Regions from separate parts of the Homo sapiens genome. Here regions 2 and 3 are each linked to region 1. Evidence: fine-mapped expression QTL. A gene starts in region 1. Each other region holds a variant in brackets. All regions are shown on one strand. Distances are between the middles of the regions.

Region 1 (4,220 bases):
TATAGCCTCCTGAGTAGCTGGGATTACAGGCATGCACCACCATGCCCAGCTAATCTGTTGCATTTTTAGTGAAGACGGTTTCACCATATTGGCCAGGCTGGTCTTGAACTCCCGACCTCAGGTAATCCACCCACCTCGGCCTCCCAAAGTGCTGGGATTATAGATGTGAGCTACCTCGCCCAGCCATGGTTTGTAATTTTTTTTTTTTTTTTTTGAGACAGAGTCTCACTCTGTTGCCCAGGCTGGAGTGCAGTGGCATGATCTCAGCTCACTGCAACCTCTGCTTCCCGGGTTCGAGATTCTCTTACCTCAGCCTCCCAAATAGCTGGGACTACAGGTGCATGTCACCACACCTGGCTAATTTTTGTATTTTTACTAGAGACTGGGTTTCACCATGTTGGCCAGGCTGGTCTTGAACTCCTGACCTTGTGATCCACCTGCCTTGGCCTCCCAAAGTGCTGGGATTACAGGCGTGAGCCACCGCACCCGGCCCATGGTTTGTAATTTTTAGCATGCAAGTTCTGTAGATGGTTTGCTAAGTTTATACCAAAGTATTTAATTTTCCTTGGAGTAATTATGAATGTCTTTAACTTTGGTTTTCATGTTTCTTGTTGGTATACATCAATGCAAGCGATTGTTGTGTGCTGATCTTGCATTCTGCAATGTTGCTGAGCTCACCTGCTCAACCCAAGAGTTCCGACATGTAGGGAGGAGGAGCCCCTCAACAATGCACGCTCAACAGAGACTGAACAATGGAGGTAGCTACAGTGGCTGCCCCGTTTCATGGTGACACCCCTCGACAATGCACGCTCAACAGAGACTGAACGATGGAGGTAGCTACTGTGGCTGCCCCATTTCATGGTGACAGGCTCAGACACCACCTGTCAGAGGCAGTGCTCCACAATAGTGAGGTCCCTCAACAGGGAAGCCTGCACTGCAACTCCCCCTCTGCCAGGTGGGGTTAGGGGATGTTGAAGGCCCTAGGCCAACATTGGCACTGGACTATGGAGGAAGGTTGTGAGGGGGCTGGGTCCTCAGGGCAGGGCGAGCAAGAGGTGAGGAGAAGGAGAACAGAAGGAACTGGTGGGGGAATGGGGAACAAAGATGAGGGGGGAGGCTAGACGGTGGGGAAGGCAGAGGAGATAAAGAGAGTGAGGACCACAGGGCTCCATCACACGTCTCAGAGAATGGAACCCCCTTGGGGCCCACCCATCTCAGGACACCCCGGGTGAGCTCCATTTTCTCTTTGTTACTGGATGAGACTCTACAAAAAAAAAAAAATCCCAAAGTGGAGAGCTCTATCTGAGACACACACACAATCCCTGCAGAAGACTGCACAGTGAAAGCTGGGGCCTCATCATTAGCCTGTTCAGACTCAGGTGTGGAAAATGGACAGGCCCTGGCAAAGGAGATGAATGTTTAAGACAAAAACCACGAATAATACTGTTCAGGAAACGGGGATGGTTTCAAGGGTCAAGAGAGCCTCCCTGTTTGGGGGAAATCCTGTTTGCACGTCTGACCAGGCCAGCCTCCACCCCACCCCTATACTGGCCTCAGCAACAGGGCCTGGAGCCTCTTGGGTTCCCCCAGGGTGGGCCAGGCACAGTTGTGGGATCAGCAGGTTCTTGCAGAAAAGACTAAGCCGAAACTCCCTCCTCTGCCTTCCAACACACAGGCCTCTCCATCCTAAACAAACAGAAACCTGTGCCTACTCCTCTGAGAGCCGTGTCCTCCATTGTAAAATGCAGGTAACAATCCGGTGCGTGTGTGGCGGACTGCCTACCCCAGGGTGGGGCCCACAGGCCTTTCTGGCCTTCCCTCCAGCCTTGGCCTGCAGCCCCTCGCCCTCCTACCCCATGCCTGCTTCCCGCAGGGGCTGTAGAGGGACTGGTCTGATTTGAGGCTCTGCGCAAAGCCAGCCCAGCCTCTTCTTCCAGGCTGGCCTCTGGCCCCTCCCTGTGGCTGGCTTGAACCTCAGGAACTTGGGGTCCACAGCCCCCTTCAGGAAGTGCAGAGCTTCTGCTGGGCAGAGTGACTTCCAGGCCGCCTTTCCTGCTGAGAAGCACACAGGCTGTGACCGGGGCCCTTCCCGGAAGGGACATTCGGTTTTTGTGGCAGGGACTTCCAGCCTGAGGCCGAAGGAGGAGGGTCCAACTTCACCTTTGCCCGCCCTTCCCCCGCTTTTTTGGGTCTCCTTTAACTGGGACGGGGCGGGACCCTCCTCCGTAGTCCTTGGGGCGGAACTGGCCCCCCGTGGCCCGGCCCGGCCCGGCCCCACCTCCGCCCGCAGGCGGTCCCGGCCCACGCGGGAAGGTCCTTAAGCCCGGGCGGCCGGCGGGACCGGCGGAGACCCGTGGAGGCCGCCGACGATGGCGGGGCCGACGGAGGCCGAGACGGGGTTGGCCGAGCCCCGGGCCCTGTGCGCGCAGCGGGGCCACCGCACCTACGCGCGCCGCTGGGTGTTCCTGCTCGCGATCAGCCTGCTCAACTGCTCCAACGCCACGGTAGGGGCAGGGGCGGGGACAGGTGGCTCCGGGACCCTCAGTCCCTCGGACCAGCCGGGTTTTGTTTTCCTGTGGCCACAGCCCGAGGTGCCAGGTGCTGGCTGGGGGCGGGGGGTGCCTTCTGGAGGTGGCTAGGGATTGCGGGCACTGGGGGCACTGTCTGTCCTGGAGGTGGCTGGGCCCAGGGCACAGAGCAGGGCTGGGTGCCCCGGGGGATCTGCCAGTCACGGAGTCCCAGCCCTTCCCAGCCTTCAGTGGCTCCAGCCTGGGTCCCTCTTCCCCAGCCAGTCACATACAGGTGGCCCTGCGTTGGCCCTCTCTCCTTCCACGCCTCCCAGCCCCAGGACAGCAGGCACACAGCAGAGGCGCGCTTGGAGCCGCCCTCCCCTCCACCTGACTCTGAGTGAGGGGCGGCTCCTGGGCTGGGCTGGGTTCCGTCCTGCCCCCACCCCCTTCAGGTGTTGCACGCTGCAGCCTTTCCCGCCCTGTGTGCCCTCATCAGCCATCCCCCGGAGCCTCAGGAACTGGTCAGGCAGTATCTGGCCAACGTGCAATGAACAGCTAGAGTTGGCAGCAGGACCCACAGCTCAGGGAGGCGCCAGGTCACGGGGATGGTCAGGAAGCTCGGGGGCAGGGGCAGGAGTCACTCTCAGGCCTGGGTCAGGGCTCTTCCAGGTGGACCCCGGGGCCTCTCCCCTCCTCCTTTGCTGGCTGGGTATGGAGGGCCAGCCTCTGGCCGAGACAGGCCCGGGATCTGCTGGATGGGCCCAGGGGCTGCCTGCTGCCCACAATGCTGGCACGAGCCGTAACTCACTGCTGTGGCTTGGCGTCCTGGCCCACCATGTCCAGGCACTGGGGAAGCCATAACTGGCTTTGGGTGGAGTGTCTGAGGGTGCAGGGCTGGTTTCATGGTCCAAGAGTCAGTGGGTGTCGTAGGTGTGGGGCGTTCCTTGGACAGTCAAGGGCCTCCTGCTGCAGTTCTTCACTGTTTTATTAATATCCACGAGTCATCATGGAGCACACAGAAATCTCACCCTGACACCAAGAGTCGTCATGGTCTCTGCCTGGGTCACCACAGTGAGCCGTAAGCACCATGTTCACTCCAGCCAAGTGCCCTTGAGGCTGGAGGTTACTCATCTGCAGCCAGTGACCAGGGATCCCGGGTTCCAACCAGCAGCATGAGGGCCAGGCGGAGCAGAGCTTGGGTCAACACCCACCCCGGAAGGCAGCCCAGTGCTCTGGATGAGACTCAAAGGACCCAAGGGGGCGAGCGCAGGCAGGGTCGAGGCTGGGAGATGAGGAAGGGAGTCAGACAGATCGTCCTCCCACGTTGCCCCGCACGCTTCAGACGCATCTCTTCTCAGTGAGTCAGCTGTGGGCCCCACTCAGGCCCCCGAGGAACCAGGACAGGGCTGAGGCTGGAGCGGCGGGCTCGGCTCCGCAGGGTGGGCTTTCTCTCCCGGGCTCGGCCAGGCAGGCACCAGCTGGGCCTGGGGAGCTCGTTCTGTGCCTGGCCCCGTCCTGCAGAAAAAGGAAGACAGGGCGGCTGTTGCCCAAGCTCCCTGTCCTGTCCCGTGGGCTGAGTCAGACCTTGTCCGGGCGGAGCCTGGGTCTGGCTGCTGTGTCCGAGGGTGTGGCCTGGAGCTCAGTCGACTCATGGAAGTTGACCTTGAGTGACACGGCCTCCTGCCTCCCGGAGTGAGCCCCGGTGACCCG
Region 2 (4,000 bases), 22 kb after region 1:
ATAGCATGGGGTAGTGGGACTAGCATGGGGTAGTGGCAGCAGCATGGAGTAGTGGGAATAGCATGGGGTAGTGGGAGCAGCATAGGGTAGGGGAATAGCATGGGGTAGCGGGAATAGCATGGCATAGCGGGAATAGCATGGGGTAGGGGAATAGCGTGGGGTAGTGGGAGCAGCATGGGGTAGGGGAATAGCGTGGGGTAGTGGGAGCAGCATGGGGTAGGGGAATAGCGTGGGGTAGTGGGAGCAGCATGGGGTAGGGGAATAGCATGGGGTAGCGGGAATAGCATGGCATAGCGGGAATAGCATGGGGTAGGGGAATAGCGTGGGGTAGTGGGAGCAGCATGGGGTAGGGGAATAGCGTGGGGTAGTGGGAGCAGCATGGGGTAGGGGAATAGCGTGGGGTAGTGGGAGCAGCATGGGGTAGGGGAATAGCATGGGGTAGCGGGAATAGCATGGCATAGCGGGAATAGCATGGGGTAGGGGAATAGCGTGGGGTAGTGGGAGCAGCATGGGGTAGGGGAATAGCGTGGGGTAGTGGGAGCAGCATGGGGTAGGGGAATAGCATGGGGTAGGGGAATAGCATGGCATAGCAGGAATAGCATGGGGTAGGGGAATAGCATGGCATAGCGGGAATAGCATGGGGTAGGGGAATAGCGTGGGGTAGTGGGAGCAGCATGGGGTAGCGGGAATAGCATGGGGTAGGGGAATAGCATGGGGTAGCGGGAATAGCATGGGGTAGTGGTACTAGCATGGGGTAGGGGAATAGCATGGGGTAGCGGGAATAGCATGGGGTAGTGGTACTAGCATGGGGTAGGGGAATAGCATGGGGTAGTGGGAGCAGCATGGGGTAGTGGGAGCAGCATGGGGTAGTGGGAGCAGCATGGGGTAGCGGGAATAGCATGGGATACTGGGAGCAGCGGGAATAGCAAGCCAAACCTCAGAGCTAAGGTAGCCAAGTGCGGGCCAATGGCAAGACCACGATGCCTTTGGGATTTGAACTTGGGGGTGTGCTGACTTGTTGCAACTAAGTCCTTTATAAAGGACATAAGATATGGTTACTTCTTTCTTGAAAAATGGGGTTCACTGGCTAGGAACAGAGGAAATTTTTCAGTCCGGGTTTGCTACCGAGGTGGAGTCAGCTGCCACTCTCCCCCGCCGTGGCCTCTCTCCCTGCACTGTGGCCCTGTCCACCTCGAGGCTTCTTGAAAGTGGCTCTGCTTTTCTCCATTTTAACTCTGCTCTGTGCCCTGTCTTTTCATTTTGCCTTGGGAGAGTCACCGAGTCCCTGCCCCACAGGCCACACAGAGCCAGACCTTTCTTGGCTGCCACCCTCTCCTCCTCCTCCTTCTCCTCCAGAGCCTTCACTTTGGCCTCATACTCATCAGCCAGCGCCTTCCACTCTTTCCTATTGTTCTGCAGTCGGTCGAACATGGGCAGGATCTCTTCGTGGAAACGAGAGAACTCCTGAGGGGAGTCGAGAAGTCACCACCAGTCCTGTCCTGCCTGCTCTCTCCAGAGTAAGATAGCCCTTCCCCAGCTCATCCCCCTCGTAGGGGATGAACTGCCTGGCAGGAGGAGGGAGCGCCACGGAGGGGGCACCTTCCCAGCAGAGCCCTGTGAAGGGAGAAACCTCGGGGGCTGTGTTGGTGACATTGAAGCCGGGAGCTTTAGGGTATGCATGCTTAGGGTGCAGTGTTGCAGGGAGAGGAACCCAAGAATGAGCAGAACAGCTCAGGGGGTGGGGGCAGGGTGCCAGGCAGAGGGGTGGTGGGCACAGGCGGACAGCAGGCAGCCCCTGCAGTGCCTTCTCCCGTCCCTCCCACACACACACGGCACACATCATGCAAGCACAGCACACGCGTGCACTCGCGCACATCACACATGGAGTGTGGCGGGGTGGGGAAGGCAGTGGGGGGCACCTGCAGTGGGGCCGTGACCTGTGGCCACTTCAGGCCCAAATATCCACCCTTGTCCCACCTTCTCCCCAGCACTGACGACCCGGGGTGGGTAGGATGGGGCGGGGAGTGGGCACAGCCCACTCCGGGACAACTTCATGTGGAACCCGTGGCATCCTCCTTGGGGCGTGGATTCCATCACCAGGGAGTGTGGCCGGAGGCAGCTGGCTCTTATGGGCATCACACAGGGCCCCACGGTCAGACCCCTGCCCCATCGAGTCTCCCCCTCCATGTCCGCCTTGCGTCCTCAGAGACTCAGCTGGCATCGGACTGTGGCAGATTGGCAGGGATGTGGCTCCTTCTGCTGTTCCAAACGCCCCTGTGGGCGGGTGCACCAGCAGACAGGCCGACCCAGCCCCGCCTCGAGGGTTCACAAACATGGAACAAATGAACCCACAGAGCTGCAGCCAAGGCCCCCAAAACAGTGTGCTGGCCA[C/T]GGCGGAGGGCACTGAGGGAGAACTTCTGGGGTAGGCCTGGAGGCTAGCAGAGGACATTCTGGGCTGGGAAAGGGCTCAGAGCTTCCAGGGGCACAGCAGGGTGAGGATGGGCTGGGGCACCTGTGGGGGTCCGGAAACTGATGTTCCTCCCCATTTGCCCCACTCAAGAGCGGCACGAAGCTGGCACTGGCATCCCTACTCCAGTGAGGACACCGCCGGGCCCGTGTGAGTCCACGCGACTCCAGCCCGCGCCCCCTTGCCTGCTCCCAGCCACCCTGCCCCAGTCAGCTCGGAACACCCGTGAACCACTCGCCTTGTACACGAATGTGCACACGAAGTCGATGAAGCCCACTTGCAGCTTGGGGAGCTCGGCCGCCTTGTTCCGGTCCATCATAGGCTGGTGGGAGGAACAGAGGGCGGGAGAACAGTGACCAGGGAGGCAGCTCCTGGGGCCCCGCCCAGCCCCCCGACCCCCTCACTCAGATGTGCTCATGGAGACACAGCCTGGGACGAGCCTGCCTGACAGAAACTGGCTCTCGGGAGGGGAAGCTGACACCCTCTCCCTTGGCCAGCGGCTCCACAGCTCCTAGGAACTGTGGGCAGCTTCTTCCCACAGCTGCTGTTGGCTCCAGCCCGTGGTCCCCTGAGGGCAGCCCCCTCTTGGCTCTGGGGACCCTTACTGCAGCTGGGGAGAGGCGGGGAGGGGGATGGGCTGTACACAGTGCTGAGCCGGGCTGGGCTGCACTGCCCAGACACTCGGCTGACCAGGACCTCGCTGTGCACTCGCCTGGGGCAGACACAGACGTGCTCTGGAGCTGTTTCTAGTGTCAGACCCCGAGTGCCCTGGGCTGTCCGTCCCCTCACAGCGTCCTGGTGGAGGGTGAACCATGCAGGACTCTAGAGGCCGGGCGCGGGGGATGGACCTGCTGCCTGTCCTTCCCCTGTGGGGCTTTGCTGACCAACCAATGCCCCCTTTCCTGCCGAGGCTGCACCTGGCCTAAGCCCTCTCCACTGCAGGCTCCAGAGAGCCCCTCGCCGCCCACCAGAGCGGGTGTGTGAGAAACCACAGCTCCCACCTGGTCCACGTGGGGCTGGGGCAGCCCTGCCTCTCCTGTTCCTGGCGCCTATCCTGACTCTCCCATTTGCTGGCACCTCTCCTGCTGCCAGGAGGTATCCAGACCCCGCTGCTGACCTGAGGACCCTGGCATTGTCCATCATACCACTGTGTGGGCCCGGGACGCCCCCCATGCGTTCTCTGCCCCAGCACCCTCCCCAGGGCTTTCTTGGTGCATGGCTCGCGGCCCTGCTGGGGTTCACCTGCAGAGCTGCCTGGACCCAGAGGCTCCTGGTGATGAGCGGGTGGCCCTGGTTCCTCCAGTGCCAACGACGTCACCTCTGCATAAGCATCACCCAAGCCACAGCTGTACCCAGGTCCGAGCCACCCACACGCATGTCACATGATCCCACAAAGTGAGATAAGGACCCCACGACCTCAGAACCCCCTGCCTGAGACCAAGCCAGGACCTGAGGCTCCTGAGGACCAAGAGGGGTCTCTAACACCCGTTTCAGGAGTGGAAGGTTCCAGAAGCAGCACTCACAATGGGCTGC
Region 3 (4,000 bases), 41 kb after region 1:
CCCCAAGCCCGTGCCCAGCGTCCCAGCACCCCGGTACAGGATACACCTGCTGCATCCACAAGGCCCCGGGGATGGTTCGAGCAGCCTGGGCTTCTGGGCTGCATGGAAGCTGAGGTTGTGTCCCTCCTGCATTGACTGGGGTCAGGTTTAATGCTCCAGGGTGAAACCAGGGTGACAGCGGTGGCCACCCCGTGTACTCAGAAATGAGGGATCCACTGACATGGGGGGCAGAAGGCACAGAGACGCATATGGCCCTGGAAGGGGAGCTGCTCAGCCTCATGGCCCTCTCATTACTTATGGGAAGGAGGGGCCAGGAGGTCCTGAGGGGCCAGGGCAGATGGGATCCCCACTGGCTGCCCAGCCAGTGGAGTAGGGCCAGAGTCTCCCCCCGACCCTGAGCCCTGGGCCATAGCTGTGGTGGGAGGCAAGCGCTCAGGCCTACGCGGTCCCAACCCCAGGCCTTTGTGGGTCCACCAGCGAACAGTCTTCCCAGGCCTCTGTGGGTCCACCAGCGAACAGTCTTCCCAGGCCTTTGTGGGTCCACCAGTGAACAGTCTTCCCAGGCTGTGGTCAGCATAAGGGACCCCAGCGAGTGCCTGGGGAATCCAAGAATGGCGCTCCTTCACTTTCAAAGCAGCAGCAGGTGGCCCCAGCGTCCCTTGGAGGCCTGGTCGCTAGGACGGGCCTCGGCCCTACTGAAGCCCCAGCCCCAGGAGCCTTGTTTCTGGAGACGTTTCCCCCTGGGCCCAGGGCCTTGACAAATCTAGTGTGTGTCCTGGCATCAGGGCAGAGGGCTTCATCTCATGGTGAGCTTCTCAGAGCTGGTTGTTGAATCCTCAGGCATTCTGAGAGCCAGCCATTAAACATAGCCATTATGACAATTCAATCATGGCCATTATGTCAATTAAATCATGTAACCTATAAACTAGAACACTGTATTAAAAGGAAAGGCGACAGACACCCAGGATCACCCGCCCCGCCCCACTGTGGGTCGCTGTTGGCCGTGCTCGGGGCTTCGCTACGGCAGACGGACTGCTGTGCCAGCGTGGATCTCCCCACAGCTCCATCTGGCTCATCATGGTGGGGCCCTAAGTCCGAAGTTGGCCAGCTCAACAGGCTCCCGCCACTGCCCGGTGTGGACAGACCACGCCCGCCCCTCCTGGCCGCCTCTCACTTCTGAATGGCTCTGCTTCCTCACAGGAGGCAGGAGTCAGACCTGCAGAGACAGAAGGCTCCCCCGCTCCTCCCATGCCTGACCTGAGTCGGGGCACCTCCTCCGCCCTTGCAGCGAGCCACCGGGTCCTGACGCATGGCCGGCCTGAAGGTGAGAGCTGCAGCCCTGCACCCACAGGCCTTTCATGCAGCTTTGCTGCAGCTCAGACAGCTGGGCGGTGAGAATTGCTCCACTAAGCCGAACAGGCAGCTGCCGTGACAGGTCAGAGAGAAACCTGAGCTCTGTAGGGCCTAACCCATGGCTTTCCTGCGGCCTCTGTTGGCTCTGATGGGAGTGTCCGAGAGGCTTTTCAGAAAGGGAATGGCAGGGGCCTCCAGCTGGAGGGTGCCTGGGACAGAAGGTAGTTCCTGATTGTCCAGGTGAGGGCCCGGGACAGAGGGAGGGGGGAGCGCCCAGAGGCTGCTTCAATCCCAGTGACCAGCTTTCCTTCCACAGCTCAAGGAGGAGGCAGACGAAGTGCAGGCGTTGGGCGGACTGCGGGGGCCAATCTTTGCTCATCACAAACTTTTATTTTCAAAAAGAGCCGTGAGGCAGGCCTGTGCCTCCTGCAAGTCAGGATGCCTAAAAATGCCGTTCGGAGGGCAAGACCCAGAAACAGCTTTTCCTAGGACTGGGCAATGTCTGGTGCAAAATCGAAAGTCTCACATGGAGACACAAGGTCACGTGTTAGAACCTTGAGCTGGTCTCCACATGCCTGCAGACTGAGAGGCTGGAAACAAGGAGTTTCCTAGGTGTTGGTAATTCACTTGTTGCCTGGTTTAGGGCTGGGGTGACCAGACAACAGAACGGGCAAATACGCCTGACTCTTGGCTCTTTCTTTCTTTTTTTTTTCGAGATGGAGTTTTGCTCTTGTTGCCCAGGCTAAAGTGCAGTGGCGCGATCTTGGCTCACTGCTACCTCTGCCTCCCGGGTTCAAGCAATTTTCCTGCCTCAGCCTCCTGAGTAGCTGGGGTTA[T/C]AGGCATGCACCACCACGCCCAGCTAATTTTTTGTATTTTTTACTAGAGATGGGGTTTCACCATTTTGGCCAGGCTGGTCTCGAACTCCTGACCTCAGGTGATCTGCGCGCCTCAGCCTCCCAAAGTGCTGGGATTACAGGCATGAGCCATCACACCTGGCCAGAGCCACACTTTTAAAACTGAGGTCTGTTGCTGGGTGGTTCCCGCTGTGTACTAGATTGCGTGCCCCTCCCCCCATGCATCTGTGAAGCCCTCACCCGAGATGCGATGGTGAGTGGAGGTGGGGCCCTGGGGGATGATTAGGGTTAGGTGAGGTCACGAGCCTGGGGCCCCTACGAGACGTGCCCTTATGGGACGAGGACACAGCAAGCCAGGGAGAGAGCCCTCGCCAGAAATGGAACCTGGTCAGCACCTTCATCTGGAACTTCACAGCCTCCAGAAGTGTCAGAAACGAATGCCCACTGTCTCAGGTGCTCGGTGTGTGGTATTTTGTTATGGCAGCTCAAGCTAATACAGAAGCAAAAACAAACCATAAACAAGGGCGCGGAAGCTGCTGTCACCCTCAGCTGCAGCAAATGTTCATTCAATACAGCCCAGCTCCCGGCCAGATGGACCCCAAATCCCACACTCAAGGCTGATTTGCCCCAGTCCCTGCTTTGGCCAAAAATTATAAGTCATGCTAAAAGGCAAGAAAAAGCAACAGTCCAAAAAGGCAAAGCAAGCCTCAGAACCAGACTCAGATGTGACACGAAGTTGGGAATTATCAGACTGGGAATTTAAAATTACTATGATCAGGCCAGGCGAGGTGGCGCATGCCTGTAATTCTAGTGCTTTGGGAGGCTGAGGCGGGCAGTTCAACTGAAGTCAGGAGTTCAAGACCAGCCTGGCCAACATGGTGACACTCATCTCTACTAAAAATACAAAAATTAGCCGGGCCGCGGTGGTGGGCACCTGTAATCCCAGCTACTCAGGAGGCTGAGGCAGGAGAATCACTGGAACCCAGGAAGCGGCGGCTGCAGTGAGCCGAGATTGAGCCACTGCACTCCAGCCAGGGCCACAGAGCAAGACAATGTCTCAAAAAAAAAAAAGGAAAATTATGATGATCAATATGCTAAAGGCGCTACTAGAAAACGGAGGCAGCGCACCGGAGCAGATGGTAACATAAGCAAAGAGATGGACGCTCTGGGAAGGACAAGGCGCGCTGGAGTACAGGAAATGCGAGGTGGAAACGCAGTGCGCCGCCGCCCGGCCGGAGGCTGCGCGTGTCTGAGGAAGGGGGCCGGGAGCGCGAACACAGAAACGCAGAGGGAACCACGAGCGGAGCGAGCGGAGCAGAGAGACAAATACAGAAGGTGCGAGTGGGCGGCGGGTGCCGGAAGGAGCAGAAAGAGCGAAGGAGAAGACATGTTGGAAGTAATAATGGCTGAGATTTTCCAAAAGTATTGACAGACACCAAACCGCGCGTCTAGGATGCTCAGTGACTGTCAAAAAAGACAAATGCCAAAAAACTGATCCTAAGGCACGTCATATTCAAACTGCAGACAACCAAGCTGAAAACCTCGAGGGAAGCTGGGGGTGGGGGAACATCTGACCAAGAGTGGAACGAGACGTTGGAAACATCTCATCAGAAACGATGCGAGCAAGAGGAGAGTGAAGTATTGGAAGTGTTGAGAAAAAAATGTGCTAACTTATAATTCTGTATACAGTAAAATTATCCTTAAGAAGTGAAGGAGAAATAAAGACTTTCTCAGATAAACAGAAACTGAGGAATGTGTTACCAGTGGACTTGCCCAGCAGAAAATGTTCAAAG

Which allele goes with the higher level. Alleles are on the strand shown, and positions count from the first base shown. SD is a standard deviation of normalised expression in the study named.
As copies of C replace T in region 2, the expression in tibial nerve of the gene that starts at base 2,346 in region 1 goes down (moderate effect, 0.51 SD a copy in GTEx).
With allele C in place of T in region 3, the expression in coronary artery of the gene that starts at base 2,346 in region 1 is higher (moderate effect, 0.51 SD a copy in GTEx).

What was found. PIP is the estimated chance that this variant, and not a neighbour inherited with it, causes the effect. A credible set is the group of variants that fine-mapping cannot tell apart.
Region 2: its variant is the best candidate, but not a certain one, in a credible set for the expression of SLC49A3 in tibial nerve (GTEx, PIP 0.75).
Region 3: its variant is the best candidate, but not a certain one, in a credible set for the expression of SLC49A3 in coronary artery (GTEx, PIP 0.81).

The regions. Positions count from the first base shown.
Region 1 is chr4:687,277-691,496 of GRCh38, reverse strand. SLC49A3 (solute carrier family 49 member 3) reads left to right here and starts at 2,346. Exons shown (of 10, transcript NM_032219.4): 1 at 2,346-2,504. The coding sequence starts at 2,370. LOC124900643 (a long non-coding RNA gene) reads right to left here. Exons shown (of 2, transcript XR_007057985.1): 2 at 3,478-4,025. RefSeq lists enhancers at 1,310-1,359, 1,135-2,082, 2,083-3,031, 3,980-4,220 and silencers at 2,300-2,359, 2,390-2,559.
Region 2 is chr4:665,320-669,319 of GRCh38, reverse strand. It overlaps PDE6B (phosphodiesterase 6B), which reads right to left. Exons shown (of 22, transcript NM_000283.4): 19 at 3,991-4,000; 20 at 2,706-2,789; 21 at 1,314-1,464. Among named protein-coding and RNA genes, the nearest start is that of ATP5ME, 7.0 kb to the left of the region's middle. The variant C/T (reference allele first, on the strand shown) is at 2,392.
Region 3 is chr4:646,142-650,141 of GRCh38, reverse strand. The region is part of intron 3 of PDE6B (phosphodiesterase 6B); the gene reads right to left. Among named protein-coding and RNA genes, the nearest start is that of PDE6B-AS1, 7.1 kb to the left of the region's middle. The variant T/C (reference allele first, on the strand shown) is at 2,190.